7 separate regions of the Homo sapiens genome follow, and regions 1, 2, 4, 5, 6 and 7 are each linked to region 3. The links come from fine-mapping of genetic effects on gene expression. A gene starts in region 3. Each other region holds a variant in brackets. All regions are shown on one strand. Distances are between the middles of the regions.

Region 1 (4,094 bases), 150 kb before region 3:
TTCTCTTGTATGTACTCCAAGTTTCTCCGAGGCTCCCAAAGCAACCCCTGGAAGGTACATGTCACATGCTGGATGGTACATGTCACATGTCGCAGACTCAGCTGTACTACAGATGGCTGGATAGGTTTTCTCTTCTTCCCTGGATTCTGATGAACTAGAGTTACTTTGTTTTCTTTTAGGAAGCAATGCCTTCAAAATATTTTGCATCCAGTTTTGACATATGATGGCTTCCATATTTATAATTTTAGTTTTGTAACAGCACTGTCCCTGTTGTTTAAATTGTTATCCAAAGGCATGATGAAAGACATCAAGACTTGTCACAGTCAACTCTAAGTTTTCTCAGGTTGTACATGTGAGCTTATATGTACATTGGAGCAAAATAGAAAACAAAGTGTAATTTGAAACCTTATATGTACGTAGTGTAGGAAATAACTATATAGTTATATATATGCAAAAGTCCATATGCAAAAGAGGTTTAGTAACTGAGGGAACCAAACGTTCATAGGAATGAGAAAATCTGAGCTGCTTCTATAATAATGCCCCATGGCTTTGCTAGGCTACTTAACTTCATAGTTTCATTTCCCCATTTGTAATACTAAACTAGGTGAGATTGCTTTTATTGCCATTATTAAAGCTGTTTTTCAGGATCTCTGGTTACTCTCCTAATGAGATTTTTAGAGTTATTTTAGCATAAATTTCATATCAGGCATACATTAGCTTATTCCACAGTACAGTATGTTTAACCTGTTTCTAAAAATGGGACCCTCTGCCCATTAACCTTATGCTAGATTTGTTCTTCAACAGGAAAAGTATCCAATATTTCAGAGGAAAAATTTGGACTATAGCAATAAATGGCCTAGCCATGTTTTACTATTGAAATTAAAAAATAACCATTGTATTCCATTCTTTTTTTTCTGGTTCCTTGGGTGCACATAGATGGGAGGAGGCAAAGTACTTTCCCTCTCCATTTTTTCCTAATTCTTTGCTTGAATCCACATATTTGAGCCAAGAACCTCTTGCCTATAGCTGGGAATGCACCCAGCAGTTGATTTTTGGCTTGTATCTGCTTGTTTCTAAGAAAGTCCTCTTTATTCACCAAGGTCCCAAACAAAAGCTGTTCTCTGTTAGACCTTTCCAGACCATCCACCGTGACCCTCCAGAAAGTCACTCATCCCTTCCCCCATATCCAATAATACTTTGAAACTACCACTGGTACAGCACAGAAGCCATTATACCACTTTTATTTAGGGAAGAACTGTTCCTTATTTATCTTTGCATTCCCAATGCCTAGATTTATTGCATATGTATCAGTGTCAGGCATAATGCTAAGTCATGTTATTATTGACTGAAAAGAATACAGTGAGGTTTTAGGGACCTCACTTAAATTCCTTGAATGTAATGAATATAATAAGGAGAAGTGGATGAGTTTGTGCAGCAAAGACTGATTTCAATATTCATTTTCCATTTCCTCCATTGTAATAGAACTCCTGGTTTCTGGCTGGACACAGGGCAATGCCAAGATAAAGACTGAATTTCCCAACCTTCTTTGCAGCTAGGTATGGCCATGTGAGTCAGTTCGGTCCAATGGGATATAAGTAAAAGTCTCATATGGCAGCTTCTGAAATCCTCCTTAAAAGAGATCTGGCAAATACCGTTTACTATTTCTTCCTTGCCCCTTTCTACTTTCTGCCTGGATTGTAGATTCAATGGCTGGAGCTGAGCAGCCTTCTTGGGCCATGATGTAACCTATGGAGGTTATATGATGGAGCTTCGGGATAGAAGGAGCCTAGATCCCTGAGGACCTCATGAAGAAAAGCTACCACATTAGCCCTAGATTGACAATTCTGGACTTTTACGTGAGAGAGAAAATCTGTGTGTTTAAGCCATGGTTATCCAGGGAGTAGGGAAGGGGGCTGTGCTACTAACATTGAACCTAATCTTGATACTGGATTGGGTTTTTCTGCTTCTTAGACAAAGTGTTTTGTAACAATCTCAAGCAACAACAACAAAAACCTTCCCTCAAAGGTTTAGATGAGGCATCTGGAATCCTTAAGCTAGAAAACTAAATTTATTAATATCACTGATTGCCCTCCCCCTAATCTTGGGCAAAAGTTAGTAGGTTTTGTTATTGCATTCTTATTGTATGCCAGAAATGATAGTATGCTTCACAAGTATGATTTTATTTTATCCTTGTAAAAACCATATGAGGTAGGGACTTGTATCATCTTCACAGTAGAGATGCTAAGTAAACAGCTGT[G/C]AGTGATCAAACAGGCCCAAAGAAAGGGCCGACTTCCCTCCTAGTCCATGCATTAATCACTGCTGGACCCTCACTGCAGGGAGGGGCTAAGGAGAGACCCTTCCTCTGTCGGCGAGGGAGCTTTACTTGCAAATTCAGTGAGCAACAATGTGGCAAATGCCAGATCATCAGGGAATGGAATTCTGCTATCAACAAGGTGACCACTGTGTACACCCCCAGGAGAAGAAGGAACTGGTTTAGGAGCTTGTCTGCTGACATCTCTATAGAGAGTCAGAGGCTAGTGAAACTCACCTCTTATGAGGAAGTCAAGGAAGGACGATGGGTCAGGAGAGAACATGGGATGGATCAAGTGGAGTGCTGCAGCACAGGCAGAGGTTGGGGAGGTCTGCCCACAGCCTAAAATGACCTCAGCCATAGAACCAAAGTCATACATAATGACACAGGCACACAGAAACCATAGAGCCAGCTTCACATTTGAAGACTGGAGAGTGAAACACCCACAAATTCATATTTAATATGAAAAGCATTCAGGAAAAAAAGATGTATACATTTTGCTACCCTGACCTCAATAACAACCCCCCAATCATAATGAAAAAGTAATTCACTCCCTTTTTATCATCTATGGTATAAACACTCATTCATTCCAGAAATATGTATTGAGAGACCACTCTGTGCATGGGCTGTACCAAGCAGGGCCTGGGGCACACGGTGGAAGGAGGGCCTCCAGCACAGTGCAGTCAGGTGGGAACACCTGCCTATAAAGAGATCCTTATAGTGCAAGGGGCCACATGCCATATGGAGGTATGTAAGGGCTGGTTGAAGCTTAAATGAGAAGCATTCCACCTTGGGGTCAGGGAAGGTCTCCAAGGAAGATGATTAAGTAGGGTCTTGAGAGATGACTTTGACATCCCACAAAACAAAAAGAAAAAAAAGGAACTCATGCTGGTTAATATAGAGGAAACACCCTCTCCCTCATAGACAGCCTACAGTAGCTCCAGGGATAGCACTATTCATGTTAGAGAATCACAATTCATGCTTATAAAAATGGCCTTAACACACCAAGAATAGAATGTTACATTCTGTCTACTCTGTTTAATAAGGCTAAGAAGAACAAAGGCACTTTTCTCCCAAGATTTTCTGATCCTCCTCAAAAGTATTTTTTAAATAACAAACTGACAATTCAGTTATATGGGGAAAAAAACATTGTATTCCTAAAAATGCTACATCAAAGGAATCTTTTCACAAGAACACTCCTTCTCCACATATTTCCATTGCTCCCATTTTTCTTAATTAAATATTTTTAATGATTACAGGTACATAATAGGTATATGTATTCATGGGGTACATGTGATGTTCTGATTCAGGCATACAATGTGTAATAATCACATCAGGGTAATTGGGGTATCAAAGACTTTTCTTCAATTACATAGCATCCCAGAAAGCAAGATTCAGGTATAGAATCACATTTTCAGGGCAGTTCAGTGTGGTGGGCAAAGCACAGGCATCAGAGTCAGCTAGATCTGAGCCCAAATCCCAACGCCACCTCCAAACTTGTCATGTAAGCCTCTGTTTCCTAATACACACAATAAGAATAATGATACATGCCTTGCGTGGTTGTCGACCTCAATTATATAAGCACCTAACACAACATCTAACATACATTAGGCCTCAATGTATGGCAGTTATCATGGTCTATGATTGTGTTGCTGTTGCTGTTACTCTATTCCAAGCATTCCAAAATGTTGTACTAGATAGGCAAAATTGCTATAGAACAATTTTCCAGCAGAGATGGACAATCCTATCTGCCTCATTTGAATCTTCAGTGACCTTCTGGGTG
Region 2 (4,000 bases), 90 kb before region 3:
TGGTCACTGTGGCCATGTGCAAACAGACCACTCTTAACTGTTGCCGTCCTGGACCACTGACAGTTTTTATCCCCTCATGCCACTTCCCCCACACCAGCTGGCAGATGAGAGCCATGTGCTGGAGACCTACCTGCAAGGCCAGAGGCAAGGTCAGGAGGCTTTTAGAGTCAGTTCGATTCATACTGATTGAGTCACACATTTACCACTCAGGTCTTTAAGTGTCCGTTTTGAATGGAAGGGATGATCAGGTTTAAGTATTTCTGTGAGCAGAGAGGATATTGTCATGGTGTGGTGTGAAAAGCACTGACTTTGGAATCAGACATCCCAGCTGGGCTGAGCCTTGATCTCTTCATCTGTAAAATGGAGCTGATAACTGCACCTGCTTTACGAAGTTAGATTGAATGTGGTCATCCCTCCCAGGCAGTGAGCACTCAGATGTCAGCCGTTGCCATTTGGGGAAATTATTGGGGCAGGAAACCCAGTGCCTTTGGACATAGTTGCTACTCAGTAAATACTGAGCCAAGTAAATGTGTTTGATAACCCCCAGTGGAGGGTCCATGGAGAGGAACTGCCAGCTGTTACCAGGCTGGAGTACCTCTAAGGTCTGTGAACTTGCAGCGATCACAAGCTAAATGTCCCCTGTAGTTCTGCAGATGTAGAAAACCTACCGGGTTCTGTCGTTATTTGCCAGGAACTAGATTTTCCTTTTGTAAGCTGCCCACAAAACAAGAATGACCTTCAATTACAGCAAAATCCAGTCTGTTGAGAGCCTCCTAGGACTATGGGGTGGGTGCTGTGGGCTAAGGCAACCCTGACTAGATTCAGAGCAGCTCAGCTCCAGGTGTCAGAGAAATGATTCTCCAGGTGTTCAGTCCTTAATGGTGTCGGACTCATTCTAGTTGCATCTCCTGGTTTAGTAGTCAGCATGTGGCTGTGGTGCGGGGAGTCGGCCCTGGGACTGGTGTCTCCCTTGGAAGCAGAGCCCATGATCTCCCAGATCATTCCAGCTAAATTGTACCCTTCTGCTGCTCTTTCCACTTGAATGGGCAGTTTTGCTTTAACGATATAAAGAAACACATTATTTCTAAAATGCCACCAGTACCCATAACGAGGTAGCAAGACTTGGAGGTGGCCGCTGGTGCTTTCTGGTACTAATGGGCTTTTTAAAACACAACTCACAGCAAAACAGGGCTGGTCACCACCACCTGGGAGAGGCTTTATTTCTTCACCCAAGGCGGGAATCTCATGTGTCAGCCCAGGGGAGCCGTGGCTGGAGGTTTGATCCAGGACCTGGACAACTGCTCAGTGATGGCCGTGGATTGCGAAGACCGGCGCTACTGCTTCCAGATCACCACGCCCAATGGAAAATCGTATGTTTCACGCGTTTTATTTGGGAGGAGAATGAGTATAGTGGTTCCACCCGTTCCAAGGGCCTCCTAGTTCATTCCTATGTGCCAGCCCTCTGTGGGAGAGGCCCCAATCTGGGTATTGTTGACCTTTCAGGAGGATGATTTTCTGCTCTCTTTAAACAAGCCCGCATGACCCATAAGGGATCCAGCCTGCCTTATCCCATATGGAGATAAGTGAGGGTTTGTCTGTGGCTTTGGAGAAGAGATGACCTACGTGTGTGAGACAGCAACAGAAGTCGTGCTTGTTAGCATAGATTCTCAGAGAGAGAAGGCTGTGGCTACTCCTAGCCTGTTGTAAAGAAGCATTTGTGTTTGGATTGCAGCAGGGGAGAGTAACTATTTTGGTAAGGACGACCTTCCTGAGAAGGCCATTTTTCCAGCAGAAGCAGGAGTTGTGAGAAGTGTACTCCACTGCAGCAG[C/T]ATCGTCGGCTGCCAGGCTGTTCCCACATGTCCTGTGTACCTGAGGGGCCCCAAAGAGGTGGTACTTTACCAATCCGCAGGCTGTGGCCATTCACAGTAGATCCCATCCCAGTGGGATCCCCTCTCAGAGTGGTGGTTTTTAAACTGCTCCAAGGAGTTCAGGGTCCCATGGAGGGGCTTCAGGGTCCCATGGAGGGGCTTCAGGGTTCACCTGCCTGGGGAGAGGAGTGGCCCTGCCCGTCATCAGAGCCGCTCTTCTCACACTGCATTCTATTAAGATTTGACCTGAACAGCAGGGGTAGGGGTGGGGACGGCATTGGGATGATGTCTCTCCTCCCAGCTTGGCAGAGCAGCTTTAGACCTCATCCTTCCTGCTTTGGTGATGGGAAATGACCTGGGAATGGAGATTCCTGGATGCTCATCATGGTCCTTTGCAGTTACCTCCTCTGGGCCTCACTTTCCTCAGATATAAAATAGGGATAAGATCTATGTTACTCCATCTGCCACAGATGAGAGGAACAAGGGAACTGGCAGATGTGGGGTCTCTTTAAAAAGTTAAAGCCTCGGCTGGGTACAGTGGCTCACGCCTATAATCCCAGCACTTTGGGAGGCCGAGGCAGGTGGATCCCCTGAGGTTGGGAGTTTGAGATCAGCATGACCAACATGGAGAAACCCCGTCTCTACTGGAAATACAAAATTGGCCGGGCACGTTAGTGGTGGCGCATGCCTGTAATCCCAGCTACTCAGGAGGCTGAGGCAGGAGAATCGCTTGAACCTGGGAGGCGGAGGTTGTGGTGAGCCGAGATCACACCATTGCACTCCAGCCTGGTGCAACAAGAGCAAAACTCCATCAAAAAAAAAAAAAAAAAAAAAAAAAAAAGAGTTAACGCCTCCACAAAGGTAGGGCAGTATTACTGTTACCTTATTCCCGGGCCTCCATACGCAGCAGACTTTTCAGTTCTGGGAAAGGAGTGAATGGGCTGCCAAGTCCTTCTTTGGGCATGGTTTGAGGAGTGGCTGGGCTTGGAGTCCTGGTCATCTTGGATCATTAGAGGAGGTCAACAGGTGGATCTCACTGTACAAACACAGATTTGGGCTAGAAGATCCGAGTCCCGCCTTCTCATTTCATAGATGAACATGCTGAGGCCCAGGGAAACGGCCATGTTTGTCCAAGATCACATAGTGAATCAGGGCAGAGCCAGACCTACAAGCCCATTTTCTTTTTTCTTTTTCTTTTTTTTTTTTTTGTTTGAGATAGGGCCTTGCCCTATCACCCAGGCTGGAGTGCAGTGGCACAGTCACCACTCACTGCAGCCTCAGCCTCCTGGGCTCGATCGATCCTCCCACTTCAGCCTCTCTAGTAGCTAGGACTACAGGCACACGCCACCACGCCCAGCTAATTTTTGTATTTTTTGTAGAGAGGGGGTTTCACCATGTTGCCCAGGCTGGTCTCGAACTCCTGGGCTCAAGCCATCCTCCTGCCTCACCTTCCCAAAATGCTGGGACTGCAGGCATGAGCCACTGCACCTGGCCCTGGAACCCCATTTTCTTTCCCTCTCATCATGCTGCCTTCATGGCACTTTTCCTCCCACACCCCAGCTAAGTTCAGTTTATGTAGAGAAATTCCCAGTCACTGAGATCAGGGAAGCACTTAATTACTTAGACACTTTTGTTTCAGGGGAATAATCCTCCAGGCTGAGAGCAGAAAGGAAAATGAAGAGGTAAAAATTTTGTTTGTCATATTTCTTTCCTAACGTGGTGGGTGACTTTGGGATTCAGTGTTCTTTTTTAATGTCCTCTACAGTGGATATGTGCAATAAACAACATCTCCAGACAGATCTACCTGACCGACAACCCTGAGGTAATTATCAGCCACCGGCATCTCAGCCCTTTTCTCAACCTGGAAGGTAAGCGTCCACCTCCTGGGACTGAGTGTGTCTTCCTGTGGATTTTTAGGCAGTCGCGATCAAGTTGAATCAGACCGCTCTGCAAGCAGTGACTCCCATTACAAGTTTTGGAAAAAAACAAGAAAGCTCATGCCCCAGGTAACTAAAGGACAAAGAAAAACTAGCTTTTGTGGAGCCAAATTATTGATTAGGAATACGAAATGAGTTGTTGCTTAATCCACACAAACCAAGGCATGTTTTTCAGCCTGTTTAACAGAAGCAGTA
Region 3 (4,000 bases):
TGCTGACAATAAACGGTTGTAAAATTGGTGAAAGTTAAAATAACAAAAGTTGAGATAAGAACTACATGGTAATTTTTTAAGAGTAAAAATTCCAAAAACCTACTTAACATGCTCATCTTTGTCAACAGACTGCACTCCTTGTTTTATCTTTTTATCCCTAATATCTAGCACAGCCACTGGTTGTAGAAAATATCTGTTGAGTGAATCAGACCATTCTACTCCAGGCTGAACCATTTTCAAACTCAATTAACATAACTCTATTCCAATTTTTTTTGAAGATACCAGTTCGTCATCTTTGTCCATAAAACATATATGACAAGGTACAGTTCACTTTATAACAATACAGAATCCCCTCCACAAAAAAAAATTAAAAGATTTTGTCATTATCTCCAAGGTTAATTTTTATGCTGCATAAGAGCTAATACCTTATTATCACCCAGGCTAGAGTGCAATGGCGCGATCTCGGCTCACTGCAACCTCCGCCTGCCGGGTTCAAGCGATTCTCCTGCCTCAGCCTCCCAAGTAGCTGGAATTACAGGCGCTCGCCACCAAGCCCAGCTATTTATTTTTTAGTAGAGACGGGGTTTCACCATGTTAGCCAGGCTGGTCTTGAACTCCTGACCTCAGGAATGTTTTGTGAAAAACTGCAACCCATCCTGGATGTAGCTCACTCTTCTCTGAGAGACTTGTAAAACCTAATTCATCTAACATTGTAGGCATTAGTCTCTCTTCGTAAATCAAGCAAAATTCATCCGGAATTTTTAAAAGCAACGTTCCACCTTTTGGGAAAACTATGAGGGAAAAAAAAAATCACAAACAGCATGCTCCAATCTCTCTTAGATCACTTACACAGATTACTATGACCAAAGATAAGAAGCAGATTGCCAACTTGTATTTATTTCAAGTAGAGTTTCACTACAATTAATTTGGCCTCAATATTTTACTGAAAGAAACACAATTTGTTTATTTCGGGATAGACTTCTAAGTTAAAATCAGACAATTCGATCTTGTGAAGCAAAATTTGAAGATTTGCTGTAATTTTTGAAGCCTTTATAACTGCGATGGAAACTGCAGAACATCACTGAAAAATATCACTTAGCATAAATAAAAGGCCTGGAAAATGATAAAATGACATTCACGTGTTTATTTTCGCAGGGTGAAAAGTTCTTTTTTCGCTCCCTTCTACGGTTATAGCAACGCGATGGGAAAGACACCCAAACTTGCAAAAGTTGATTTGGGAGGAAAAGAAGAAAAACAGGAAACCGAAACAGGAACCCAGACATCAGCGTCCTCCAGAGCTGAACGCTCAGAATCTGGCGAAATCCCCAAGAGGCCAGAGACAGAAGCAGCCTGGGATCCCGGGGCCGCTGGGCCTCCCGGGCGCGCCCCGCCCAAGCCCCGGGGCAGCTGAAGGGGGACGCCGCTCCCCGCGGGGCACCGCAGGCTCCCCAGGAGAGTCTCCGCCTCACACGCCGAGCCCTGAACGGGCAGCCTGACCCGCCGTGGCTGGGACCCCAACCCCGAAAGTAACGCTGGAGAGCGCGTCCCTCGCACACCCCAAGGGCTCTGAAGTGTCCCGCACCAGACGGCTGCGCAGCCGTCCCTCTCGCAGGAGCGCTGCCCAGCCCAGAACAGCGGCGGGCCGAAGGAGCGTCCACCCGCAGCCCTCGCCCTGCAGCTCCCTTACTCTGCGAGCCGTCGTCAACGCGGTCAAACTCCCAGTCCGGGGACAGAGTCTCCACCGCCATCACCCCGGCGCCTCCCACAGACACAGCCCCAACCAGCCCGTGCGGCGACGACGGCCTCACCCCAGCTACTGTCACAGCACGTGACTTCCGGCCCCGGCCCCGCCTCCGCTCGCGAGGGCCGGCCGGGCTCGTTGCCCCTGCGACCGCGGGGGCCCCTGGGAAAGCGAGTCCTCCGCCGTGGCCGAAGGCGGCCGCCATGGCGCCGGCAGTGCCAGCGGGCGTCTTGCGACCCGGCTCGGGCTTCGCCACCATTCACTGTGCTTCTCAAGCCACTTCGGCACTCTAATTTCGCCCTGCTCTCTCTAGACGATTTTTAATACCTGGGAAAGTTACTCCCCAGTCTAACCTAAAAAGGTAGAATTGATGGGGTGGGGAATTAACAGGAAGGCATGATCCTCGAGGATAACGCTGACCAGGCGCTTCTTCCAACAAGCCTGTTTCCCTCTCTGTCGCCACCGTAGGAGTTCCTACAGCTCTCCCGCACATTCTGTACGGATTGTTTTTTAGTCAAGACGTTCTGTGCGAGAGGAGAAGTTACTTTATGAACACCCTAACAGGGGATCTTACGACCTCTTCCCCGCTCTCCACTCAGTCCTTTTAAAAACGCGAGGCAGGATGAAGAACGCTATTGAAGTACATTCTAAAATGATCCCACCTGCAATTTGGATTTTTGGAGAATCGGGATCGGTGTAAAATTCTACATGCATACACGTATTTGCACAAGAATATTTATAGCAACGTGGTTTTTAATAGGAAACTATCTAAATGTTCATTACAAGTGAATTACATAAAGCTCAATACATCCATACTACGAATCACTGAAGAGCTGCTAAAATAGATGAAATATATTTATAATGGCATGAACAACCGACACAAGACAGTTGCAGAGTAATGTGTATTTGTGATTACATTTATGTTTTTAAGTTATACAAACGCGTATGTGCCTACGTGTATGTAAATTCATAGGAAGACAAATCAGAGGACGGTGGTTACCTGGGGAAAAGCATGTGTTGGTGAGTAACAGGATTTTCAAGTTTTGATGTGTCTACTTATGTGTTTTGAATCCTTAACAATGAGAATTTATTAGGGTTTTACTCTTGTAATCTTAAAAAGTACCGAAAAGAACTAATCAATGTAGGCAAAAGGTCTATTGAAGAGCATTCTTCTGAGGTCATTGGATCTGCCCTGAGTTAAATGTTTATTGAGTGCCCACTGGGTACCAGGCACCAGGCTAGATGCAGAAACTATAAAACATGTAAGAAAATTGCTTTCTGACCCTATGGCAGACTTAGTGGGCATTTCAGAAAGAAAAAAAAAATCTTGAAAAGAACAGGCATCCTTAGGGTCTAATGGCTGACAAACTTTTTTCCTGTACTTTCTGTGTGACCATGAGTTTGACTTTCCTGGATTCTTAACATTTGCATTAAATCACTGTAATTAATCTCCCAGCAGCTCATTGTGATAAATTGAACTTACAAGTCAGAAAAATTTGAGTCTATAAATACACTAATCTATTAAAGTTAATAGATTAGTAGCAAGAGGCAGTGTCATGTAATAATTGAAAGCACAGTTTTGACTGCCAAATTGCCTAGGTCCAAATCCTGGCTCTGCCACTTACTAACCATGTGATCTTGGGTCACGTAATTTAACCTCTGCCTCAATTTCCTCATCTATAAAATGAAAATAAAATAAAACTAGTAAACACCTTGTGGGATTCTTACGAGGACTAAATTAGTTAATACATATAAGGTACATAGAACAATACCAACCACATACTGTACCAGGTTGCTATTATGAATCAATATAGATTTATCTTAAAAAGATCTCAGAAGTCCCAGATCTCACAAGTCCCAGTGTGGTGGCTCATGCCTGTAATCCCAGTACTTTGGGAGGCCAAGGTGGGTGGATCACTTGAGGTCAGGAGTTTGAGACCAGCCTGGGCAACGTGGTGAAACCCTGTCCCTACTAAAAATATAAAAATTAGATGGGCATGGTGGTGCCTGCCTATAGTCCCAGCTACTCTGGAGGCTGAGGCAGGAAAGTCGTCTGAGCCACTACACTCCAGCCTGGGCAACAGAGCAAGACTCCATCTCAAAAAAAAAAAAAAAACTCAGGGATTTTCTGTCTTGATCTTAAATATGTTTAAATCAAATTTCACAGCCTATAATTTCAAATTTTGTTAGAGAATTACAAATTAGATACCAAATAGAAAAGCACATTCACTAAATGAAAAGTGCTATCTGAAAGTTATT
Region 4 (4,094 bases), 30 kb after region 3:
TGCAGATTGGGAGTGATGGTCAAAAGGGACTGTAGTCTTATCTGTGATCTTTTCTTTTCGTAAGGAGCTTGTGTGTATATGTAATATGTATAATTAAAAATTAATTTTAAAAATTTTATACAATTAAAATATTATAGTAAATTCTGTGCATGGAAATCCTGCCTCTCTAGTACTGGAGTCCGTTTCTGGACTCGAGCCCTTTGGACTGTCTCTCCCTTTACTCAAAGTCTTTGAAGTGTTCTGTGGTCACCAGCCTCGGCCCAGGAGCTCTCTCCAGCCTCTGAGTCCTGGGCATCCCCCTCTGGCATCACCTGCTCATAGGCCCCTGTACTGACATCCCTCCTTTTAAAATATTTTATCCTTTTTATGATGAAAAAACAAAAGTTGGCCAGACATCCAAGAAAGCCCTCACTGATATCTTCTTTATATAATGAGGCAATAGGAACATCAAGTTGCGCAAGCTTGCCATTTAGGATGGTATCCTGAATCTTGCAGATCTACCTCTATGTAAAGTGTACTTGTTGCTTCTGTTAGTATGAGAGTTTGTTACAATTGGTTGCAAGAGCTTTCACACTATTCCAGACTATATCCTGTGACTATGCTACAGGTGGATTGCTAGGTCAGCTTTGATTTTCACGCTCTGCTCCATTCTCAACACAAGAGGTGTGTCTACCCGGAGCTAGTTCATGCCTCCAGAGTTACCTAAGCAGTCTATTAGCATAGAAACTAGACTCTCCTGGTTTCAATTAACTCTCCTGCTTAAAGCGGCTCAGTGAATCTCATTGTCTTCACAATAAGGTCCCAATTATTTGACACAAAGCGCTCCATAATGTCTCTTGCTACGGTGTCGCTTGTCACCACTCCTTAACTCCCAGTATTGGACACGCTGTGCACATGCATTTGTTTCTTTGTAAATACCGCACCCTCTGCCTGGAACTTCCCAAGCCTCTCCCTTTTCTCTGCCAACTCCCAAGATGGATTCTCTAAGATTCAGCTAAGTAACTCCCTTCTGGAGAAGGCTTCTCGTCTCTTAACCAAACTGTGCTCTCTTATTCTAGCACTGTTACTATGTCTTAGCTTGTGTGCCCTCCCTACTAGTTGGTGGATTCCCGAGTACAGGGACTGCTTCTTTTTATCTTTAGTGTAAGGGTCGCAAAGAGAAATTCCCACAGAGGCCAAACAGGTAAAGCAAATGAGAGATTTGAGCTGCATAGAGGGCAAGACCATGTCTAGGGTAAAGGGGCCACCACTGCTCAGCGCTAGCTGACTGTTGCTATACGGCGCCACAGACCAGGGTTGACAAACCTCCTGAGTTTTTTTGATTTTTGTTTTTTGAGACAGAGTCTTGCTCTGTCGCCCAGGCTGGAGTGCAATGGCGCGATCTCAGCTCACAGCAACTTCTGCCTCCCGGGTTCAAGCGATCCTCCTGCCTCAGCCTCCTGAGTAGCTGGGAATACAGGCACGCGCCACCATGCCCAGCTAATTTTTTTGTACTTTTCATAAAGATGGGATTTCACCATGTTGGCCAGGCTGGTCTTGAACTCCTGACCTCAGGTGATCGGCACCCAGCCAAACCTCCTGAGTTTTAAAGACAAGTTAGAAGTTGTGCCTTCTGAGGTGCAACCTCCTAAAAATCTTAACAGAGTCCTCTTAAAAATGCTTTGTGGGCCAAATAAAACACCCCTGCCAGGCCAGTAATGTGCCACCTCTACCATGCACTACGCCCAGAGTGTGGCAAAGCCTGAAAACATG[C/TGC]TTGTTGGATGAGTCTTGCACAGAGTCAGGCACAGTTTGGGGCACTCTGTGCCGGATGCTCCATGAAGTGTTAGGCACCTCAGGGTCTCAGGAAAATGTACTTTGTTTTATTCTTTTGTGTGAAGGTCCTCTGTGTGAAACTGCCAATTCTTACTTGGATAGCTTTGGCCTTACTTTACACCCTGCCCAGATGGTTCTATTAGCATCTGGCCAAAGGGCTTCAGATCAGGGCAGACTCTTCGCACTGTGCCTTGAAGTTTTCTTTGGAAAGCTATGTGTACCTTTTTTTTTTTTTTTTTTTAATTCTTGGAGCATAGTCAGGGTCTGTATTAACTTGCTTCCTGAAGAATTCCACCAGAGGGTGGACAGCCTGGGAATGCATTATTTGACAATTTGGAAAGCAAAGGCTCTGCTCCCTGCAAAAGTCTCCTCTAGTGAAGAATGTTCTCTCTAAAGAAACAAGGTCGGGCGTGGTGGCTCACGCCTGTAATCCTAGCACTTTGGGATGCCAAGGCGGGTGGAGTGCCTGAGCTCGGGAATTTGAGACCAGCCTGGGCAACACGATGAAACCCCATCTCTACTAAAATTAAAAAAAAAAAAAAATTAGCTGGGCATGACGGCGTGCGCCTGTAATCCCAGTTACTTGGGAGGCTGAGGCAGGAGAATTGCTTGAACCCGGAAGGCGGAGGTTGCAGTGAGCCGAGATGGCGCCATTGCACTCAAGCCTAGGTGACACAGTGAGACTCTGTCTCAAAAAAAAAAAAAAGAAAAAAGAAACAAGATTAGATTATAGAACTTATCATCCAGATTTGGAAATGACTGTGTGTCATTTTATGCCCTTTCTCACTAATGCGACAGACACCTATAGTGAGAGCCGGTTAAAGAATGGTGCTGTCTCCCACGTCACTTCCACTGTGGCATTTCCTTAAACAGGCTGATGGAACTATTCCCAATTGACCTGTCAAACTGTTGCTATGTTTTTCTTTTTCTAAAGTAGGAGGGGAACTTTCAGCATAGGAAAGCCTTAGAAACACATCTGCTAAAGTAAGACAGATCCAGGTTTGAATCCTGCCCTGGACCCTTATTAGCTCTGCCCTTGGGCAGGTTACTTAACTTTCTGACCCCTTTGTTTTCTCATTTGCAAAATGGGTCACTGGGGGGATTAAAGATGTATAATAAGCATTTGATAAATACTTTTTGAATTAATGAAAAGGGCTCAACATAGTGTTTGGCTCATGGTATATTTCCAATAGGAAATATCTATTATCATTATTTGTAGGTACCTAGGTATTGCTTATGGTATGATAATAATAATAGGTAACATTTACTGAGCATTTACTATTGCCATGCACTGTGCTAATGCATTACACACTTTATCCCATTGAATCCTTATAACAACCTTATGAGATAGGTACTATTACTATTCTGATTTTAATTGATGATGGAAAATAAAGCCCAGTTCAAGACTGCACAGCTGGTGTATGAAAAAACAATAGGCACTAGGATAATAAACAGAGTTGGAATCTCAGGGCTGCCTCTTAGCAGCTATTTGACTCCTGGCTACTTAACCTCTCTGTCTTTAATTTCTTTATCCCTAAAGTGGGTTAATAATGCCTGTCTCCAGGAGTCATTGTGCAATCAAATGAGATAATAATGTGAAATACTTGGCCCAAACTAGGGTCTCATTAAAATGTTTGCTCTTATTTCCACCATTTCTTCCTGACCGAAACTCCCCAGGGCAGAATCTTGTTCTTGTGGGCAGACATACCACTCTCCACAGAGCAGAGATTCTCAGACTTCCATGTACTTCTGAGTCACTGAAGAGTTTGTTAAAATGCAGCTTCCTGGGCTTAAGATTCTGAGTCAGTAGATCTGAAGTAGGGCCCAGGAATCCACATTTTAAACATGTTCTCCCAGTTACTTCTGCCAATACAGGCAGGCACCACACCTGGAGAAATAAGACTGAAGTAAAATAGCCTGTAATCCTGGCACTTTGGGAGGCCAAGGCAGGTAGATCACCTGAGGTCAGGAGTTTGAGACCAGCCTGGCCAACATGGTGAAACCCTGTCTCTACTAAAAATACAAAAATTAGCTGGGCATGGTGGTGTGTGCCTGTAATCCCAGCTACTAGGGAGGTTGAAGCACAAGATTCACTTGAACCCGGGAGGCGGAGGCTGCAGTGAGCCGAGATTGCACCACTTCACTCCAGCCTGGGTGACCATGGAGTGAAACCCTGTCTCAAAATAAATAAATAAAGTAAAATATATCAGTCCAATTTTCTGGAATCTTGCTAACTCATTATAAACATATTTATAGTCATGAAATCTGAAAACTTCTCAGTG
Region 5 (4,085 bases), 23 kb after region 3:
AAAACCTTGGATGTTTGTTGCAATTCTCCAAGTTTTTTTTTTTTTGAAACAGAGTCTCCCTCTGTCGCCCAGGCTGGAGTGCAGGGGCGCGATCTCGGCTCACTGAAAGCTCTGCCTCCTGGGTTGACGCCATTCTCCTGCCTCAGCCTCCCAAGTAGCTGGGACTACAGGCGCCCGCCACACGCCCGGCTAATTTTTTGTATTTTTAGTAGAGACAGGGTTTCACCGTGTTAGCTAGGATGGTCTCGATCTCCTGACCTCGTGATCCGCCCACCTCGGCCTCCCAAAGTGCTGGGATTACAGGCGTGAGCCACCGCGCCCAACCGCAATTCTCCAAGTTTTAATGATGGTTCTTTTTTGTCTCCTTACTCTCTTAAACACATTCATCCGTTTCAACAAGTTTTTTTTTAACAAGTTATTTTTTATTTTATTATTATTTTTTTAAAGCTCTGGTTAGTGCTAGATACTGTAAATCCTGATTAATCAGACATGGACTTAGCTTGCAAGGAGCTTCCAACAGAGACGTTAATAGGTATACAAATACCAGTAGCAGATTGAGACAGCCATAACAGATGCATAGACAAAGATTATTTCCTGTTAAGAGGAGTGAACAATTATTTATGGGGAATAAGGAGACTAAGAGAGAAAAGAATCAGAAAAAAGCGCCTCCAGGAGGCAGCATGTAAGCGGTACCTTTCAGAAAAGAAACGGTCGTGCCAAGATAATTACAAGTGACAGATGACAAGCTTTTCTGGGAAACATTGTCCAAGAAGGAATAGGCAAGAACTGCAGTCAAGCAGAATTACATATGCAAAAGAGCAGTGAGAAATAAGAGAAAATGGCAAATTGCAGACGGCCCTGAATGCTGGGCTAAGAAGTCTGGCTTGAGATAAACGTCCAGCTAAAGCAGGTCTGAGCGTTTTTTCCAGAGAGGTGAGGGAGAAGGGCACGTATCTATTAGGTTGATGCAAAAGTAATTGCGGGTTTGCCATTATTTTCAGTGGCAAAAACCACAATTACTTTTGCACCAATTTATTTATTTATTTTTAAGACAGAGTCTCGCTCTGTTGTCCAGGCTGAAGTGCAGTGGCATGATCTCAGCTCCACTGCAACCTCCGCCTCCCCGGCTCAAGTGATCCTCGTGCTTCAGCCTCCCGAGTAGCTGGGACTGCAGGCATGCGACATCACGCCCGGCTAATTATTTTATTATTTTATTATTTTTTATTTTTAGTAGAGACGGGGTTTCACCATGGTGGCCAGGCTGGTCTCGAACTCCTGAGCTCAGGCCATCTTCCCTCCTCGGCCTCCCAAAGTGCTGGGATTACAGGCGGGAGCCACCGCGCCCGGCCTACCGTCCTACGAGGTAGGCATCAGGATCCCTCCACAGCGAAGGCGCCCCCACTACCTATCTGTCTACAGGCGTGCCTTTTACGGGCTGTGCTATGGACAGCACTTGGGATGTCAGATTGACCACTAATAAGGTAGATCCGTATACACTGCTGCGGGGCTGAGTAACTGGTAGAGGGTCCCACAGTTAGAAAGCACCTGGACCTTGGCTGGAATTGGCGGAAAGTCCAGGCAGCGGAGAGGCGCGGTCCCTGGGACTGGGTGCGCTCTTGGCACCAGGGTCAGGGCCCACAGGCTCCAGGAAGCCCACGCGCTCCGCCGGGTCGCACCAGGTTGGCTGTCCGAACGCAGCCAGCTGGCGGGGCGGGGCCTTCCAGCTGGGGGCGGGGTCTTGACAGCTAGGGGGCGGGGCCTTGCAGCTGGTAGGGTGGGGCGGGCCGCGGGCTGTGGGCTTTGGGAGGGGTGCGGACTAGCAGAGGCCGAGAGCGGCGAGCCGCGAGCCAGGCAGTCCGGGGCATCCAGACTGCAGGCCGCGCCCAGGCCGCGCCCAGGCTGCGCCGCCCGCCTGCCTCCCGCGCTGCCGCGTCGCCAGTGCTAGCGCTCCTCTCCAGCATGCTGCGGCGGGGCAGCCAGGCGCTCCGGCGCTTCTCCACTGGCCGGGTGAGTCCGGCCCGGGCGAGCGTCCCGGCTGTCACCCTGTCCTGGTTTCCAGACTCCGGGGCGGGAGGGCCGGGGCGGTGGGGCTGGGGATGAGCAGCGATGCTTAGACTTTGCTAAACACCAAGACAGCGTTTAAAACAAACAAACAAACAAACAAAAACAGAGAGACCTCAGAGGAGGGCTTGGGGAGGGTCCCGGATGGGAACTGGCACGCAGGCCATTGTCTTCTGCCGGGAGGGGGCTGAGGATGCAGTTTTTGGACGTGTCAAGTCTGGCTGGGATGGCAAGGTGGGAACAGTCACTTGGTAAGGAGGACAGAGTCTGCTTCCTTTCCTTTTTCACTTCAATCATGAG[A/C]TCCCTGGTCAAGAGCTGGAGCCATATGGAACCGAGACTGTCTCCTGGAGGAGGGGAGTATCAAGTCAATAGGGTCCTCGTTGGCGGCCTGGGAGGTGTAAGCGCTCGAGACTGGCACGCAGGGCCGGTTCAGATAATGGCACTCAAAGCTGATGGCTGCAAGCTCAGTATTCCTGAGCTGAGCTGCAGATGGCAAAATTTCTAGAATTGCCAGGCGCTGCAGAGGCAGCCACGCTGGAACACTATTCTACTGTAGCACAAGAACCGAGCTCTGGCCCAGCCCCGCGCCTTGGAATTGCATCAGCTCCTCCAGAAATGGAACCGAGAGAGGACACGTTGCACTGCGGTGCTGCCTTCAGCACCCAGGGGGCCTCGGGACTGTTTAGGGAAGAGAGAGAGAGAAAAAAAAAAAATAAAAACTGTCTTATGTATCGTATCTTTTATAGGAAGTACATAAAAGAATTTGCTTATCGATTCTTTTTCTCGGCCATGCCAAAGCCATATGTACATATGTATATATTCAGATGTAAAAAACTTGGAGGCAGAGAGAAGTCTTGAGTAGCACCAAAAACTGGCCCAAACTTGCATCAAAGGAAAAGCTTTCTGTATCCCAGACAACCCCAAATAATAAGAATTCGTTTTACTCTTTGCAACCAGTTCTAGTTACTTTGAGGTATAGTCACCTTTTATAAAACGAGGGGTGGGGGTGGGGAAGACCTGCTCTGCTAGGACTTTGGCCTGCTCTCCTGGACCCCTCATTAGCTTCCCCCACCACGTGGCACATGGGATCCCAGATGGATAGCACAGAAAGCAACGGGCTGTGCCCAATGCCTGAGCCTGTTTTGTTGGCCTCCTCTGTCAACACCTTTCACTGACTTGTCTTTTTTGGTGACCAGAAGGAAGTCTTGCAGAATGAAAAGATTTTGATAGTGCGGTTTGCATAAGATTTCAGTAATAAAAGGTAAACATCTCAGGTGGCAAATGGCATAAACAAAACTATGGATGTGGGGAAGAACTGGCGTGATCAGGGTCTAACTGTACGCAGGGGTGCATATGGAAAAGCAGTGATACTCATGGCTGGGAAGAAGACAGTTTCCTCAGTGGTCGAAAGGAAGCTACTGAGTGGTGAATGAAAAATGTGGGATGTTTTATCCTGTAGAAAATGTTCTGGACTGTGTTTTATAAGAATTATTCAAAATCAAACAGATACATGGCTGGTGGAAATATAAAATGGTACAGCCACTTTGGAAAACTGTTTGGCAGTTTTATATGTAGTTAAACATAAACCTATCATATGACCCCGGAATCACACTCCTAGGTATTTACTCAAAAGAAATGAAACCTTATTTGCCCGCATAGAAACCTGTTTATTGATGTTTCTAGAGGTTTTATTCATAATTGCCAAAAACTGGAAATAAATTGTCCTCAGCTGGTGACAGGATAAACAAGCTGTGGTATATCCATCCATACAATGGAATTCTACTCAGTTGGGGGAAAAAGGAATGAACTACTGATGCATACAACATGGATGGAACTCAAATATGTATGCTAAGTGTAAGAATCAGACTCATAATGCTACATATTTTATGATTTCATTTATCTGACATTTTGGAAGAGTAAAACTATAGGGACAGAAAAAAGATCAGTGATGTCTGGAGCTGGAGATAGGAGGAAGGATTGATTATAAATAGGCATAAAGGAATTTGGGCGGTAATGGAACTGTT
Region 6 (4,094 bases), 110 kb before region 3:
CACACTTTGTTGTCATTTCCAAATTCATATCCCCTCCTCAGTTCCTTGGCTGAAGGCACCGTTCTCCATCTGGCCTTCCACATGGGCAGCACAGTTCTTTCTGACTCCCCCGCCTTCCTCACTCACCACACCCTGCTGTTTCTGCCTCAGGAATACCTCCATGCCCCGCTCTGCACTGTCTGCCTCAGGCTCAGACACTTGTTTATCTCAGCTTCTCCAAGTGGCCTCCTGATCAGTCCCCCTCATCTATTCTCTCTCCCACTTCAGTGTTTTCTTCCCACCACCACCACTCCTGGTTTTCTTCCACCCGTGCCTGAGCTTCTCATACTCCTGCCTGAGTTCCTTGGTGCTTCCCCACTGCCGCTGGAATAAAGTCCAGGTCCAGCAGGCATCCCCCCGTGGCCTGCCTCGCATGAGACGCTCCAGCCGCGTTCTTGCCACACCCCTCACTACTCCCTGTGTGCATCCTGTCTCGAGGGGCTCCTGAACTAGTGCGACCCGTGACCGCCAGCTTTGTGATAAACACTGGGTACTGAATGTGACTAGGCAACATCTCCAGCCAAATAGTTGGTATAGATCGATGTGGATTTCCTCCACCCCACTCTCTAGCCTCTCCATTCATATTCACCGTGGATGCTGCTGCGCACAGAGGCCCTTGGGGGTTTCAGGTGACAGTTGCATTTAGTTAGCGTTCTGTGCTACAGAAAGATAAACATTCCTTTGCCAAATGCCCAGTTTTCCTTTCAGGCTTGCTAGCCACTTGATTTTCTGCCTTGGCAACAGCCCCGGGAGGTTCTGTTGAGCATGGGAGATGCTGTCAGCAAACCCTCCTCAGGGTGTCCTTTCAGGGCTTCTCACAAAGCGGTGCATAGTGTAGATGGCAGCCAGAGCGGCCCAGAGTGCCCAAAACAATGCTGCTCATGGAACTCCATTGAGAATTCCCACTTTAGCCCACGTCTTTTGCTCTTCTACCACTAGAAAAGTGTGGGACTTAGGTTCATATCTATGGGCCCTACAGGTCCTGCCCACCTGAGTATTGAGTAGGTGCAATTTTGGACTTTAGATTGGAATAGCATAATAGTCAGAACATGAGCTTTTGATTTCGAGTCCTGCATTAAGTTGTTGCCTGCCAGTCACTAGTCATGTGGCTTTAGAAAGTTATTTATCCTTTCTGAAGCTTAGTCTCCACGTTTACAAAATGGAAATAATAATAGTATCTACTTCATGGGTGCACTGTGAGGATTAAATGTGATAATATATGAAAAACATTTAACAGCAACATCAAGCACTTAGGGCAGACTCAGGGTTAGCAGCTATCTTTATTGATGTTATTGCTAATATTTACTCCTCACTCGGGCTCCAGTTTTGCAAGTCCTGTTGTAGAGATATTTTTGCAGGCCTACCTCACAGGGCACAGGGCGTGGATTAATTAGCTGATGTTGGTAAAGCATTTCTTACAACCTTTGTGTACAGTAGCTTAAGTATGAGTAAGATTAAAGTTGATCTCTTTTGAAAGACTTTTCACACAATGTGCTCTGTTCAGGGCAGGTGACAGGCTGTGTTGTAAGCATGTTGGTTTCCGATGAACTCATACTGGCTGCACAGAATCATAGTTGGTCTTGCACCCTGAAATATTACACATAGGAAAACACGCAGCATTTTCAAATGGTATTCCTAGGAGAGACCCAGAGAGTCTGGTTGTTCGAAGTCGTTTTGGAAGGCAGCTGTTGTGTGTTGCACGCTGTGCCCCTTCTTCCCTGAGCGGAGGTGGAGCTGTGTGGCTGTGTGAGTGGCACATGAGTGCTCTCCCCTTGAGCTTTGGGTACAGCCTGATGCTGGCAGTTCCCTGGCAGGTCTTTCCATTACATTCGGAGCATTTGCCAGTAAGCTCTGAGGAAGAACTTGAGTGGCCCATGGTCCCTGCTTGTTTGGAAGGCCTGGAGGGTGG[T/G]TATATGTGTTGACCAGTCTCTGAAGGAGGCATATATGGGGAAGTAACATATTAGAGTTGACTAAAATAAAGAAAAGAATGAATTAGAAGAGTAGAAGCTCCTGGGATCTGAAATGGTGTAGCTTAAGAGAGCCTCCTGCAGAGGGTGTGGCAAAAGAATGGGTCTTTGAGACATCTGATGACAAAGCAGGATCAGTAATCCATGGCTCTTGGGCCAGCATCTTATTTTTGTAAATAAAGTTATATCAGAATGAAGCCACATTTACTTGTTTATATGTTATTTCTGGCTTCTTTTGTGCTACAAAGCAGAGTTGAATAGTTGTGGCAAAGACCATATATGGCCCACAAGCCTAAAATATTTACTCTCTGGCTCCTTACAGAAAAAGTTTGCCCACCCTAGTGTAAAGCAGAGGCCTTCTCCTCTCCTGCCTTGTGGTAGAACTTGGGATCTCAGTAGCATTTAGGAGTGTGGATTTTAGAATCGGACAGCTCCAGGTTCACATCCCAGCCCTGCCACTCATCAGCCGTGTATCCTTGCACAGGTGGCTTAATCTCTCAGTGCTTCAGTTTCTTCATCTATAAAATAGAGTTATTAATTAGAACCTGCTTTTACAGGGTCATTGGAATTAGATGAGGTCGTGCACAGAATGCATTTAGCATAGGGTCTGGCATGAATGAAGCCCTCTGTAAATGTTAGCTGCTGTTACAATGATTCTGTGGGTCTGCAAATCATGTTCCACATGGTGCTGCCCTCAGGAACATGCCAAGATAGCTTGAATGAATCCATCTGCTGCTAACTCAGAAAGAAGGAGCACGAGATTTTCAGTCATAGCTGAGTATCAGCCCAGTGAGTGAGATAAGACCTTTGTTTCCATGCACTCTGATCTTCAAAACAACACTGCTAAAGATGGTTGACAGGTAGTAGTCTCTGGCCAATTGCTTTGTATTTTATTTCATTTGTGATGTTTCCTTGTACAGTTAGGAAGGATTTTAAAACCCTTACACCATGATTTCAGGTATTGTTTTAAACTTGGAATTTAGATGAATCTTCTAATCTTGTTCATTCATTCATTCATCAAACATTTGTTGAGGGCTTGCTGTGTGCTAAGAATTGTTGGACGTTCCTATCTGAATGAAGGACATTGTGCTTGTGGCTTTGTCCACTTGCTGACTTCCTGACTATGTGGCTAGAAGTCACATTTCTGGTTAGTTTTGAAAGGGGTTGAATACCAGTAGGATGTCAGAGCCAGGCACTTTTGTTGTATTTGTCTGACTTTCTTCTGAGGAAAAAGAGCCACGTTTCCTGGTCTATTAATGCCTATTCCTTAGGGCAGAGCAGGAAGTCAGGGAACAGGTTGGCCAGTTGTCTGCGAAGAGGGTCAAAAAAAGGTAGGACTTGGCTCTACTGTATTCTGCCAAATAGGACTGGGAAAAATAAAATAAGCTCCTGCAGAGCTCAGGACTTAGCCTTAAAGGAACAACAACCCCAGGAGAAATAGCCAGTGGAGGCCAAGGCCAAGGAGGTAGGCCAGTGTCCTCCCATCATCTGTGCCATGTCAGACCCAGTGGCTCTGCTCCTTAGGAATAAACCCTGAATCTTAAGCTTTAACTGAGCTTTAGAAATGTAAGGCAAGTTTTCTAGGCTGCCCACATCAGTGGTAGGAGGATAGTGGTAGAAAACCGCTGTGTAGCCAGAGATTAGAGGAATAAACAAGAGGAGAGGAAAATGAGCAGTACGGGCTGGTGAAAATGGCACAAAACAGGCCTCCCAGGGCATCGCAGCTCTTGAAGAGCAGTGTTTCCTCTGGTTTTCTGGGATACTTGGGTTTAGCTGTGCTTCTGTTACCATCCATCATTGCCAGCGAGTGTTCTAAGCCTGGTGGAATCTGACCTTGTCATATGCTGCTTCAGTCCCCACTGTGCTTCCAGTATGTGTGAGCCTGGGCCCCGGGGGCCTGCACACCTTCCCACTGCCTCATTCCCAGCCTGATATCACCTCCAAGCGCACAGCTCTTGCCCCAGCCACGCTCCACTTCAGAGCTGTTCAGACAGGCAGTGCATTTCTTCCACGTGTTGGCGCCTCCTGGAAAGCTCGTCCCCATGGCTGACTCCTAGTTTGTCTTCAGAACATCTGTTCCCTGGAGAC
Region 7 (4,088 bases), 53 kb before region 3:
GAACCCAGGAGGCGGAGCTTGCAGTGATCGTGCCACTGCACTCCAGCCTGGGCAACAGAGCGAGACGAGACTCTGTCTCAAAAAAATAAAAAAGAAAAAAGAAAGAAAAATCTATAAAGAACATATAGACCTATTCTCAAGCAGATGTTTCTAAGAATCCATTACAAGGTCAATATAAAATTAATGGAAAAACAATTCCATTAAGCTTACCCATGGCAAAGCCATCATCAGTAAAGGCAGCTCCAATTTTATTTTTTTTATTTAATTTTTCCTTGCAACTAATGGAATGCTCTACAAAGTTGAGGGTCTAAAAAGATGTAACAACATGTTAGAAAAACAATTTTGCTAAGAAAATCTTCAGAATTCCTATAACAGACATTTTAAAAATTATAAATAGAATCACTATAAATAGAATAGAATAGAATCTAGATTCCTGTCCTTTTCATCTGAAACATTTGCCTTAGGTACCCTCTTGGTGAAGATACAATCTATACAAGTGTATCTTCATGGATCTCCTTTCCAAGTCCTTTAAATATGGGCACTCCCTCAATCACTACTTAGCCCAAGAACAGTGCCTTGTATATCTCATTATAAAATATTATGCACATTTTACAGAGAAGGACACCGAGGCTTGGGAGATTTATTATCTCACCCAAAGTCATATATTAAGTGAATGCTGGAGTTAGCAAAGTAGGCCTGCTTTATTTCAAAGCACAAGTACTCTTAAAAACATATGCAAGACAGTCCTTACTTACACCTACCTAATTCATTCGAAAATACTATTTCTTTTCATGTTCTTAAGTGTGAATCCTCAAAACAGTACGTCTCTTGAAAATTCAGCTCTTCCAAAATGACTTATCTAATCATATCTTTTATTCAACAAAGATTTACTGAAGCTTACAATATACCAGGCATTATTAAGTACTTATGATTAAACAAATGATTTCTATCTAGAGTTCACAGTCTAGAGCAACACTGTTGGCAGGGACAGAAATGTGTATCTGCACCATCCAGTACATACAGTAAGCCACTAATCACAAGCGGCCACTGAGCACTTGAAATGAGGCTAGTGTGACTGACAAGCTGAATTTTTAATTTTTAAAAAGGTATTTTTATTTTTTTCGCCCTGCCTTATGATTTTAATTTTATGAAATTTTAATTAACTTAAGTAGCCACATGTGACTATACATGGATAGCACAGCTCTAGAAGAGTAAATGCAGAAGTGTTTAAAAACTAATTATGATATACAGTGTGCTAAGTACTATAATAGCCTACGCTGGAAACAAAACCAAGTTTCATTTTTTTGACTGTGAAACTTATTCAGCAATTAATCACCTGTTTGTGAATTTTTTATCAATCATTAATTCAATCTTTTTTAGAAATCTCATTTATGCTTGTCTTTTTTCTGGAACTACACTACAAACACAAGTACAAGAACAGTATTCTATACTTCTTTGTAGTGCTTTTAATCCACTTTGTTTTCTCCATCACTAAGCGAATTCTGACAACTGCCTTGTAAAACTCCAGACTTTTTCCTAAGCTTACCAATGGGTTAACTGCTGTCTACAATGGTTTGAGTACATTGCCCTTCAAATTAAAAAAATATGGTGAGAACTCACCCCAAGTTAACTATAGTATTACCAAATATGACA[C/T]TCTCCCTCCAGTTTGACACTATCTTAAGATGAAAAGATTCTTACAAGATGAATATGAACATTTTTTGCTATATCATAGTTAAAATACAATTATGATAGAAAATTAACAAATGTATAAAAGAAACAAAATTCATGGAAAAAAGCTGTTTATAGGCTATTAGCTACTTTCAATAGGTAATAATGGTTTTAATATGTAAGAAGATGTGTTAACAACTTGGGCAGCAATATGAAAAGTCACTATTCTTGATCAAAATTAAATATAATAAAGAGCTTCATCTGCTGGGTGATATTTAGATTTTAAAGCTATCTACTTACAATTTTTTTTAAACTTTATAGGAACCTTAAGCCAAAACAACTCTTATTACTAATATATACCTCTCAAAAATTCTTAACTCCATTTTCCCTAATGGAACAGCTGTTTTTATAATGCAATTTTTGATAACTTGAACTATTTTTAGATAGCAACTACAGAGTTAGAGCAAGAACACGTTACATACTCTAAGAAGCATTAAAAATTTAGTCCAGATGTTAGTATTTACTACTGAATAGAAAGAAGTTATCTTGAAACAATATGCTTTAAGAAATGTGTTAGAAAAAACTATAATAACAGCTAAAGTTATTCTACATTAAGCACTTAAAATGATTATATATTAATAATTCTGCCCAAAGATTCTATGGCATATACTCATATAACTTAAAAAATACTCAAATTTCTCCAGTAATTATTTAAAAAAAATAAGAATCTATCTTAGGCCATACGTGGTGGCTCATGCCTGTAATCTCAGCACTTTGGGAGGCCAAGGCAAGAGGACTGCTTGAGCCCAGGAGTTCAAGACCAGCTTAGGCTACACAGTGAGACCCCATATCTTAAAAAAGAAAACAAATTACCAAAATTAGGCATGGTGGTGCACACCTGTAGTCCCAGCTACTAGGGAGGCTGAGGCAGGGGGCTGGCTTGAGCCCAGGAGGTCAAGCCTGAGTAAGCCATGATCACACCACTGCACTCCAGCCTGGGTGACAGGGCAAGACCCCATCTCAGAAGAAAAAAAAAATTTAACAATAAGAAAGTGTCCTTCAGCATGGCTAACAAATAAAAAATTCTATGTCACATTCACTGAGATCACATTTAGTTTTATATGCAACCAGGAAATTAATAGTGTAGTCTGTATGCATTTCGTGTTACAAAGAAACCAGATCTATTTGTGCATACTCTTTTTAAAAAAAAAATTCATTTTAGGTTCTGGAAATACTCACCAGAGGGGGAACAATTATATAGAAATTTCGGAGATGTATATTCTTTGGCCTTCGAAATTCTGGAGCAAAAACGTCTACAAGCATTTTGAAATATTCTGTGCCTTCGGCAGAATTTCGTGTGTGATCACTGAGGACTGAATCCAAATGCCTAAAAAGCAAAAAATTATTTGGTTCCTTTCTCAAAAGAAGCGTGGCTTTGAAAAAAATCCATCTCTCAATAGTTTAGATAAGAACACTTGAAAAGCAGGAAACACTGTAAGACACTTCTAAGAAAATTTTCTTGGAGTTCAGAATAAACTTATTTTCTCATGGACAGAAAACTGATCAATATTAGTAAATTTAGTCCCAAAAATAGACTATTAGAACATCTTGGGACTTAAAATAATAGTTCTGTATTTCTTCTTCCCACAGTGAGGCCTGTAGAACTCCTCTTCATTGTAAATATTTCCTCTTCCCCTTAAATCTCTAACGTTTCTCCTACATCCCCTTACCTCAACATAAACCTGGCTCTTTTTTTCAAGAACTCAGTTTCCCTCTCAACCTTCAAAAACATCAGCTGCTTTTTCTCCTGCATCCCTCATGTACAGCTACTACCACTTTCAATTATTATTCCTCCACCACTGTAAGAAAGAAATCTTCCTTTGTGACTCACATAATCCAACTATATCTAACTACCCAAATACTCAACTACTTCTTCCTAACAGCAGACATCTACTAACCTTTTAACCACCGTCCTACAATTACGCAGGATTAGGATGCCTGCTCCAGTTCTCCCCTGTCTATGCAGATAATCTATTCATTATCATGACCCTACATTTCCTTGACTTCAATCAACCACTCCCTTGCACCAATCTGGATCTTCCAACTAGCAGTCAGCTTTACCCTAGAGATCTTAGAAGACAATATCCTACTCTCTGATTTCCTCACACTGCTTCAAAATATTTTTTAAATGGTCAACACTTTCGGAGTGAATGGCATCATTTAACATAAGGTAAAGGTCTGATCCTTTCCTTTGAGACACACATCAGAAACTATTTAAACCATTTTCAGGCACATGACTTCAAATGGCTTAACTTTGTAAATGGCTTATGTAATCTGGCAAAGAGCTTAAGCTATCTAACAGACTATTCCAGAGCAAAGCTTCTGTGCTGGGGCCTTATTCTCACAGAAATGCATGCATT

What was found. PIP is the estimated chance that this variant, and not a neighbour inherited with it, causes the effect.
Region 1: its variant is the best candidate, but not a certain one, in a credible set for the expression of WASHC4 in spinal cord (GTEx, PIP 0.68).
Region 2: its variant is the best candidate, but not a certain one, in a credible set for the expression of WASHC4 in spinal cord (GTEx, PIP 0.56).
Region 4: its variant is the best candidate, but not a certain one, in a credible set for the expression of WASHC4 in whole blood (INTERVAL, PIP 0.76).
Region 5: its variant is the best candidate, but not a certain one, in a credible set for the expression of WASHC4 in whole blood (TOPMed, PIP 0.77).
Region 6: its variant is the best candidate, but not a certain one, in a credible set for the expression of WASHC4 in caudate (GTEx, PIP 0.54).
Region 7: its variant is the best candidate, but not a certain one, in a credible set for the expression of WASHC4 in whole blood (INTERVAL, PIP 0.60).

Annotation. Positions count from the first base shown.
Region 1 is chr12:105,257,670-105,261,763 of GRCh38, reverse strand. No RefSeq gene overlaps it. Among named protein-coding and RNA genes, the nearest start is that of APPL2, 24 kb to the right of the region's middle. The variant G/C (reference allele first, on the strand shown) is at 2,258.
Region 2 is chr12:105,195,135-105,199,134 of GRCh38, reverse strand. It overlaps APPL2 (adaptor protein, phosphotyrosine interacting with PH domain and leucine zipper 2), which reads left to right. Exons shown (of 21, transcript NM_018171.5): 11 at 1,182-1,370; 12 at 3,508-3,550; 13 at 3,634-3,690; 14 at 3,786-3,874. Among named protein-coding and RNA genes, the nearest start is that of APPL2, 39 kb to the left of the region's middle. The variant C/T (reference allele first, on the strand shown) is at 1,830.
Region 3 is chr12:105,105,549-105,109,548 of GRCh38, reverse strand. WASHC4 (WASH complex subunit 4) reads right to left here and starts at 1,818. Exons shown (of 33, transcript NM_015275.3): 1 at 1,688-1,818. The coding sequence starts at 1,748. It overlaps LOC414300 (a long non-coding RNA gene), which reads left to right and starts at 1,907. Exons shown (of 2, transcript NR_121211.1): 1 at 1,907-2,761. RefSeq lists silencers at 1,270-1,519, 1,730-2,009 and an enhancer at 1,550-1,709.
Region 4 is chr12:105,075,699-105,079,792 of GRCh38, reverse strand. The region is part of intron 1 of ALDH1L2 (aldehyde dehydrogenase 1 family member L2); the gene reads left to right. Among named protein-coding and RNA genes, the nearest start is that of ALDH1L2, 6.7 kb to the left of the region's middle. RefSeq lists a silencer at 548-842. The variant C/TGC (reference allele first, on the strand shown) is at 1,753.
Region 5 is chr12:105,082,311-105,086,395 of GRCh38, reverse strand. It overlaps ALDH1L2 (aldehyde dehydrogenase 1 family member L2), which reads left to right and starts at 1,938. Exons shown (of 23, transcript NM_001034173.4): 1 at 1,938-2,007. The coding sequence starts at 1,960. RefSeq lists a silencer at 1,631-2,060 and enhancers at 2,561-2,800, 2,295-3,095. The variant A/C (reference allele first, on the strand shown) is at 2,362.
Region 6 is chr12:105,218,485-105,222,578 of GRCh38, reverse strand. The region is part of intron 2 of APPL2 (adaptor protein, phosphotyrosine interacting with PH domain and leucine zipper 2); the gene reads left to right. Among named protein-coding and RNA genes, the nearest start is that of APPL2, 16 kb to the left of the region's middle. The variant T/G (reference allele first, on the strand shown) is at 1,949.
Region 7 is chr12:105,158,968-105,163,055 of GRCh38, reverse strand. It overlaps WASHC4 (WASH complex subunit 4), which reads right to left. Exons shown (of 33, transcript NM_015275.3): 29 at 2,908-3,055; 30 at 211-307. Among named protein-coding and RNA genes, the nearest start is that of WASHC4, 53 kb to the right of the region's middle. The variant C/T (reference allele first, on the strand shown) is at 1,654.